Linked DNA regions of Homo sapiens: region 1 is linked to region 2. The links come from fine-mapping of genetic effects on gene expression. Tissue or cell type: whole blood. Region 2 holds a variant in brackets; the other region holds the start of a gene. All regions are shown on one strand. Distances are from middle to middle. Region 1 holds the start of ZNF329 (zinc finger protein 329). Region 2 has its middle 5.2 kb from the start of ZSCAN18.

Region 1 (4,397 bases), 48 kb after region 2:
AGTATTTCAGAGTGAGGTATGATATCTATAACATACTTCCAGTAACTCAGCCAAAAAAACTAAGTGTATGTAAATATATGTCTGTATCACACCTGCCTCTGCAACACCTGCTGTGTGTACAAGTGTGTGTAAAATATAAAAAGAAAACCCTATGTCAGAGGCGTTTGAACCAAAGCAAACCTCCATCTTAAATGGGGACTGGGTAAAATAAGGCTGAAACCTACTGGGCTGCATTTCCAGACAGTTAAGGCATTCTAGGTCATAGGATAACACAGGAGATTTGCACAAGATACAGGTCATAAAGACCTTGTTGATAAAACAGCTTGCAGTAAAGGTGGCTAAAACCCACCAAAACCAAGATGGCAACGAGAGTGACCTCTGGTCCTGCTCCCACTAGCACCATGACAGTTTACAAATGTCATGGAAACATCAGGAAGTTACCCTATATGGCCTAAAAATGGTAGGCATGAATAATCCACCCCTTGTTTAGCATATAATCAAGAAATAACCATAAAAATGGGCGACCAGCAGTTCTTGGGGCTGCTCTATCTATGGAGTAGCCATTTTTTTATTCCTTTACTTTCTTAATAAGCTTGCTTTCACTTTACTCTATGGACTCGCCCTGAATTTTCTTTCCCAAGATATAAGAACCCTCTGTTGGGTTATAGCTCGGGACCCCCTTTCTGGTAACACCTATGCATGTGTCTCAGGCAGGGAGAAGATAAAGATAAAGCTAATGTGGCAAAAAGTGTTAATAATTTTAGAATCTGGATGGTTTTAGAAGTGTTAAACTATTCCTGCAACTTCTATGCAAATGCGGAACTTTTCAAAATGAAAAGTTGGGTGAAGAGAGAGGTAAACAAGCAGTAGAATGGAGGAAAGTCACTTGCTGTGGGAAAAAAGAAAAAACAGACAAAAACTGGGTATTCAAAACGTACTTCAACAAGCCCAAGTTCCTATAGCCAAATTTTTTAACTTGGCAAAAAATAAAGGACCTTTTCAGGCTGATGGTAATTTTAATAAAGGTTTAGGTTGCATTTGTCAAAATTCATCAATGGTACAGGGAATATCTGTGCATTTCACTGAAAGTCAATTTTGGCTCAAAAAATTTAAAAAAGCACTACTGAACTCTAATTCATGGTAAGCATAGTGAGGTGTTTGAGGGAGAAGTGTTGTGATATCTGCAACTTACTTTGAAATGTTTCCAAAAATAGGTGGATTAATGAATGGCTGAAAGGATGGACAGAAGGAAAGATAAGGGATACAGTAAGTTCAGCAGACGTTAACCGGGTCGTTCACTGCACAAGTCTTTCAGCTTCTCTATCTAAACCAACATTTTATGTCATAAAATATTGAGACTGGAAGACTGCACAAAGGAAATATGCCACTAAACCAAGGGAAAAGACAGCAAAATGGTCACTAAACACGTGCAAAAATGCGGCCCTCACTGAGAATTGCAGTAAAACATGATTTTGCAAATATCAAATGGAAAAACACACAGGTGATCTAACACCTTCGAGACTCAAGGGGAAGCGGCTCAGCCCACTGGCTCACGGCCGCCAATTCAGCCGGAGGCCGACCCAAGCCTACACTGCCCCTCACACCTGACAGAAAAGCTGCAGACTCGGGGGTTACCCCCGGAGACGGACCAGGACACCCAGCAGGCGTGGCAAAACAGTCTCTATGGGAGGGCGGGCTAGAGATGCGAGCGCGGAACTCACGGGTGACGCTAAGGAAAGAGCGGGGGCGTCCAGACCAGCCCCGGAGCGACCTCGTCCTCAGAGGAGTGACCCCAATCGCCACGGAGCGTCCCCACCCACCAGGAGAACTACGCCCCTGGCCAGACCCTCGCCCTAGCGGGCCCGACATGCCCACCACCCAGGTGAAACCCACCCGCGGACGCGCCCCTCGCCGCCCCACAAGGACCCGGCGGACCTCCACCCGCCAAGACTTCCCTCCGCAGGAAACGGAGGCAGCGCAGGGCTCAGGGATGCGTCGGCACTTACGGTTGGCGGCCGGCGGCAGCCATGTTCCGGGCGATTGCGCTTGCGCGGCTGCCGGGACAAGGATGTGCGCGTGCGCGGAGTCCCCGAGCTTCCCCCGCCCAACGCTGGGGCGGCCGCGGGTACCGGGTTATTCATTACCCTGGCGTGGACTTGCCTCGGGGCGGACGCGCAGGCATTTACTTTCTCCTATGGTCTCCTCTGATTTTTAACCCGATGCTATCATTCTTTTGTTATAGAGCCTTCCTTTTATTTACTGCATAATTTCCTAAAATATTTCTTTATCTATAATCTTTTTTTGAGATAATAATGTTAAAATTCAGAATAAGTACACTCATTATTCATTGGCAATATAATTATTTACTGGGTGCGTGGCTCACGCCTGTAATCCCAGCATTTTGGGAGGCCTAATTTGTTAAAATGACTAGATCTAAGAAATGTAAACAAAGCCAGTAACTTTCCTCTGTAGTAACAATAGCCGGTTGAAAATGAAAACTACACATTTTCATTCTTTCAGTGGTTCTCTTAAACTTTAGCATGGGGAAGCCTAAATATTTACTGACAGGGAAGAGAGAAACTGTGGTATGTGCAACGGAGCAATAGGGGGTGGTTAAAACAAACGGACTGGGCTCACCTAAGGTCAGGAGTTTGAGACCAGCCTGGCCAACATGGTGAAACCCCGTCTCCACTAAAAATACAAAAATTAGCTAGGCGTGGTGGCAGGCGCCTGTAATCCCAGCTCCTCGGGAGGCTGAGGCAAGAGAATCACTTGAACCTGGGAGGCGGAGGTTGCAGTGAGCTGAGATCGTACCATCACACTCCAGCCTGGGGGACAAGAGGGAGACTTCGTCTCAAAAAAAAAAAAAAAAAAAAGGACTAACTTATATACAAGATAGACAGTTCTCCAAAAACAGTTCGAAAAGTAAACTGTGCACTTATCCACATGATACAACTTACCTGGAAATAAAAGACACAAAATCTATATGTTATACAGAGATTGATACATAAGTAGTAAAGTAACAATAACATGGACCAGATAGATTGTCCAACCTCAAGAAAGTGGCAACTGAGGGGAAAGAGTTGGGGAGGAGACAAAGGAGACCTCAGTTACACCTGTGATGCTTGATAGGAAAAAACAAATCAAAACCTGAAAATCTGACTACATGTTAACACAGGTAAAATCTCGATGATACATGGGTGTCATCTTTATTATTTATAGATTATTCTATTACTCTCCGAACCTCTCCGCAGGTTGAAATACTTCACAATTTTGAAATGAAAATTAGAAAAAAAATTCTAAGCCATAATAGTGATTAAATTGTCACTCACAATAGTGATGGTTGGAGCAACTTGGAAATCAATTAGCAAAAGCAATAAAGGATCTTCATGAAGAAAATACAAAAACCTCATTAACAGACCTGAAGTTAAGTTCAGAACACACTGACATATTATTCCTGAATGGAAAGTATTTTTTTAATTTCTCCATGAAGGCCGTATCAGACCAGGCACAGTGGCTCATGCCTGTAATTCCAACTCTTTGGGAAGCCGGGCTGGGGGGATCACCTGAGGTCAGGAGTTCAAGATGAGCCTGGCCAACATGGTGAAACCCCATCTCTAAAAATATAAAAATTGGCTGGGCACAGTGGCTCATGCCTGCAATCCTAGTACTCGGTCTCAAAAAAAAAAAAAAAATCTTCACAAAACTACTAAACAAAAGTATAGCAATTCCAATTCAAAGACTCCCCCCGCCCCCAGCTCACAGAATAAAACAACTTAAAGATCATATGGAGAAAAGTCCAACAGTATCTGGTTAAAAGAACAGTCGGAGACCGGACGCGGTGGCTCACAACTGTAATCCCAGCACTTTGGGAGGCCGAGGCAGGTGGATCACTTGAGGTCAGGAATTCAAGACCAGCCTGGCAAACATTGTGAAACCTGTCTCTACTAAAAATACAAAAATTAGCCGGGGGTGGTGGCGGGTGCCTATAATCCTAGCTACTCCGGAGGCTGAGGCAGGAGAATTGCCTGAATCCTGGAGGCGGAGGTTGCAGTGAGCTGAGATCGTGCCACTGCACTCCAGCCTGGGTGACAGCTATACTCTCGTCTCAAAAAAAAAAGTCAGGCACCCTTTATTAGATACTAAAATGTACCATATTAAGCAGATGGGCTCAAATAGGCACTAATACAGACACAAATATCAGAAGAATAGAAGAGTATGCAAGAAGAGATGAGTAAAAGTAATAATCTAGTAATAAAGTTAACAATAAAGCATAACATCATTAATAATAACAAGGGTGTTTTTTCCATTCAGTGGCAAAGAGAAATCCTTAGTGCTAAGTACTGTGCTGGCACAAGTGTATATTCTTTTTTGTATTTTTTGAGACTGAGTCTCAC
Region 2 (4,397 bases):
TCTCCTGCCTCAGCCTCCCGAATAGCTGGGACTACAGGCGCCCGCCACCATGCCCAGCTAATTTTTTTTTTTTTTTTTTTTTTTGTATTTTTAGTAGAGACAGGGTTTCACCATGTTAGCCAGGATGGTCTCGATCTCCTGACCTCATGATCCACCCGCCTTGGCCTCCCAAAGTGCTGGGATTACAGGCATGAGCCACTGCGCCCGGCCACTTTTTTTCTTTTTCAAAGTTATTTTAACTATTCCAAGTCTTGTGCTTTCCCATATACTTTATCTTCTTCTTTTTTTTTTTTTTTTTTGAGACAGAGTCTTGCTCTGTCACCCAGGTTGGAGTGCAGTGATGCAATTTCAGCTCACTGTAAACTCTGCCTCCTGGGTTCAAGTGGTTCTTCTGCCTCAGCCTCCTGAGTAGCTGGGATTACAGGTATGTGCTACCATGCCTGGCTAATTTTTGTATTTTTAGTAGAGACGGGGTTTCACCATGTTGACCAGGCTGGTCTCAAACTCTTGACCTCAGGTGATTCGCCCACCTTGGCCTCCCAAAGTGCTAGGATTACAGGTGTGAGCCACCGCACCCAGCCTTTTTTTTTTCTTTGTTTTTTGAGACAGAATCTCACTCCTAACCATGCTGCTAATATTTACATGGTCCTGCACCAGTGTGTTCATGTAATTTCACATAACTTTTTTCTTTAATTAGGGTTGAGTTTCCTATATAGGCCTTCTAAGCAGCCAGAGATCACACACTTAAATGAGCACCTATTAGCTTCCAGGCATATTATGTTTTCTTTTATAAATAAAAGCCTCAAAATGCACACATGCATACACACACACACGATTACTGACCAAAAGGTATTTCAGTATAAAAGCTAGAGTAGAAGCTCCATAAGGACGGTGACTTTTCCCTGTTTAGGCAGCTTACTAAAAAACCCCATATACTCAGCCGGGCGCAGTGGTTCACGCCTGTAATCCCAGCAATTTGGGAGGCCGAGGTGGGCTGCTCACGAGGTCAGGAGATTGAGACCATCCTGGCTAACACGGTGAAACCCTGTCTCTACCAAGAAAATACAAAAAAATTAGCCGGGCATGGTGGCGGGCGCCTGTAGTCCCAGCTACTAGGGAGGCTGAGGCAGGAGAATGGTGTGAACCCGGGAGGCAGAGCTTGCAGAGAGCCAAGATCACGCAACTGCACTCCAGCCTGGGCGACAGAGCAAGACTCCATCTCAAAACAAACAAACAAACAAACAAACAAACAAACCATATACTCTTCTGTGCTGTTTGGCTTCCCCCCACATTATGAACTTTAAAAATCTTGCAATAAAATAACAATTATGGCTGACACAGGCTATAAGAAAGAAGGCAGGTAACAATGATTATTCAGCAAGGTAGGAAGGACTACAATGGCACACAGACTTGCCATTTTGTACTGCATCGGATATGTCAATGTTAATTGTCATCTCAGCAACAAGATTTTTTCCTTGAGAGTTGTATTTCTCCTCAAATGGACTCTCACTAGTCATTCAATTCCTCCTTCTGATATTACTCTTATTTCATTGATTCCAAGATAACAGATGGTAACATGTACATTTTATGTGCTAATAAAAGGCTGCCTGAGGCCTAGCACAGTGCCTCACACCTGTAATCTCAGCACTTTGGGAGGCCGAGGTGGGTGGACCACCTGAGGTCAGGAGTTCAAGACCAGCCTGGCAAAACCTCGTCTCTACTACAATACAGAAATTAGCTGGGTGTGGTGGTGTGCACCTCTAATCTCAGCTACTTGGGAGGCCGAGGCAGCAGAATCGCTTGAACCTGGCAGGTGGAGGCTACAGTGAGCCAAGATAGCACCACTGTACTCCAGCCTGGGTGACACAGCGAGACTCTCTCTAAAAAAAAATAAAAAAATAAAAAAAGGCTGCCAATTAAACCATATCACTGATTAACCTGGTTTGTTTTCAGATGTTAAAATATGGCAAGATATGTATCACAGAATAAAGGAAATACGGTAAGTCTTTAGGTTCTGTGTCACGACTAACTTCCAGATATAGGCATTACCTTGTTTTCTTGCACTTTGCTTAATTATCCTATGCAGATATTGCATTTTTTACAAGTTGAAGGTTTGTGGCAACCTGTGTCAATTAAGTCTATT[G/C]TCACCATTTATCAAACAGCATATGCTCTCTGTGTCTCTGTGTCACATTTTGGTAATTCTCACAATACTTCAAACTATTGCATTATTATTATCTGTTATGGTGATCTGTGATCAGTAATTTTTGTTGTAACTATTGTAATTGTTCTGGAGTGAAAGGAACCACGCCTATATAAGACAATGAACTCAGCAGATAAATGTTGTGTGTCCTGATTCCTCCACCAACCTGCCATTGCTCGCTGGTACGCACTCTCTCTCAATCTCTTTCCTCAGGCCTCCCTATTCCCTGAGACAAAACAATATTGAACTTAGGCCAGTTAATAACCCTACAATGGCCACTAAGTGTTCAAGTGAAAGGCAGAGTCAGACCTCTAACTTCAAATCAAAAGCTAGAAATGATTAAGCTTAGTAAGGAAGGCGTGTCAAAGACAGGCCAAAACTTAGCCCTCTTGTGCCAAACAGCCAAATTGTGATGGCCAAGAGAAAAACTTGAGGGAAATGAAAAGTGTGACTCCAGTGAATATGTGAATGACAAGAAACTGAAACAGCCTTGTCGCCAATAGGGAGAAAGCTTTAATGGTCTGGATAGGAGATCAAACTACCCAAAGAGAACTAACATTCTCTTAAGCCAAAGCCTAATCCAGAGCAAGGTCCTGACTCTCTTCATTTCTATGAAGGCTGTGAGAGGCGAGGAAGATGCAGAAGAAAATTCTGAGCCGGCCAGGCACAGTGGCTCATGCCTGTAATCCCAACACTTTGGGAGGCCAAGCGGGATGGATCACCTGAGGTCAGCAGTTCAAGACCAGCTTAGCCAACATGGTGAAACCCCACCTCTACTAAAAATACAAAAATTAGCTGGGCATGGTGGCGTGCGCCTGTAGTCCCAGCTACTCAGGAGTCTGAGGCAGGAGAATTGCTTGAACCTGGGAGGCGAAGGTTGCAGTGAGCTGAGATCGTGCCACTGCACTCCAGCCTGGGCAACAGAGTGAGGCTGTCTCAAAAACAAAACAAAACAAAACAAAACAAAAAAAAAGTCTGGGCCGGGTGTGGTGGCTCATGCCTGTAATACCAGCACTTTGGGAGGCAGAGATGGGCAGATCACCTGAGGTCAGGAGTTTGAGAACAGCTTGGTCAACGTGGCGAAACCCCATCTCTGCTAAAAATACAAAAAAAATTAGCCAGGCATGGTGGCAAGTGCCTGTAATCCCTGCTACTCAAGAGGCTGAGGCATGAGAATTGCTTGAACCCAGGTGGCAGAGGTTGGCAGTGAGCCGAGATCATGCCACTGCACACTAGCCTAGGCAAAAGAGTGAGACTCCATCTCAATAAAATAAAATAAAATAAAATAAAATAAAATAAAATAAAATAAAAAAGTCTGAAGCTAGCAGAGGTTGGTTCATGAAGTTTAAGTCATCTCCGTAACATAAAAGTGCAAGGTGAAGCAGCAAGTGCTAATGCAGAAGCTGCAGCAAGTTCTCCAGATTTAGCTAAGATCACTGAGGAAGGTCGCTACAGTAGACAACAGTTTAAATGTAAAGAAAACAGCCTTCTGTTGGAAGAAATGCCAGGTAGTGTTTTCACAACTAGAAAGAAGTCAGTGCCTAGCTTCAAAGCTTTAAAGAACAGGCCGACTCTTGTTAAGGGCTAATGCAACTGGTGACTTTAAGTTGAAACCAAAGCTCATTTACCATTCTGAAAACCCTAGGGCCTTAAGATTTAAGTTAAATCTACTCTGAGTGCTGTCTATAAATGTAAACAAAGCCTGGATGACAGTACGTGTTTACAGTATGGTGTACTGAATATTTTAAACCCACTGTTGAGAGACTTCCTCCTGAGAAAAAAAGATTCAAATTATGGCTGCTCACTGACAAGAGCTCTGATGAAGACATAGAAGGAAATTAATGTTGTTCTCGCAACTGCCAACACAACGTGTATTCTGCAGCCCATGGACCAAGGAGTAATAATTTTGCCTTTCCAGTCTTCTTATTTAAGAATGCAGTTTAGCTGGCCCAGGCGCAGTGGCCTGTAATCCCAGCACTTTGGGAGGCTGAGACAGGTGGATCACGAGGTCAGGAGATCGAGACCATCCTGGCTAACACAGTGAAACCCAGTCTCTACTAAAAATACAAAAAATTAGCCGGGCGTGGTGGCGGGTGCCTGTAGTCCCAGCTACTCGGGAGGCTGAGGCAGGAGAATGGCATGAACCCGGAAGGCAGAGCTTGCAGTGAGCAGAGATCGCACCACTGCACTCCAGCCT

Evidence for each region. PIP is the estimated chance that this variant, and not a neighbour inherited with it, causes the effect. A credible set is the group of variants that fine-mapping cannot tell apart.
Region 1: ZNF329 starts here. The variant in region 2 is the best candidate, but not a certain one, in a credible set for the expression of ZNF329 in whole blood (INTERVAL, PIP 0.79).

Annotation. Positions count from the first base shown.
Region 1 is chr19:58,148,746-58,153,142 of GRCh38, forward strand. It overlaps ZNF329 (zinc finger protein 329), which reads right to left and starts at 2,044. Exons shown (of 4, transcript NM_024620.4): 1 at 2,007-2,044. RefSeq lists an enhancer at 2,121-2,180.
Region 2 is chr19:58,101,239-58,105,635 of GRCh38, forward strand. It overlaps a transcript of ZSCAN18 not described here. Among named protein-coding and RNA genes, the nearest start is that of ZSCAN18, 5.2 kb to the left of the region's middle. The variant G/C (reference allele first, on the strand shown) is at 2,144.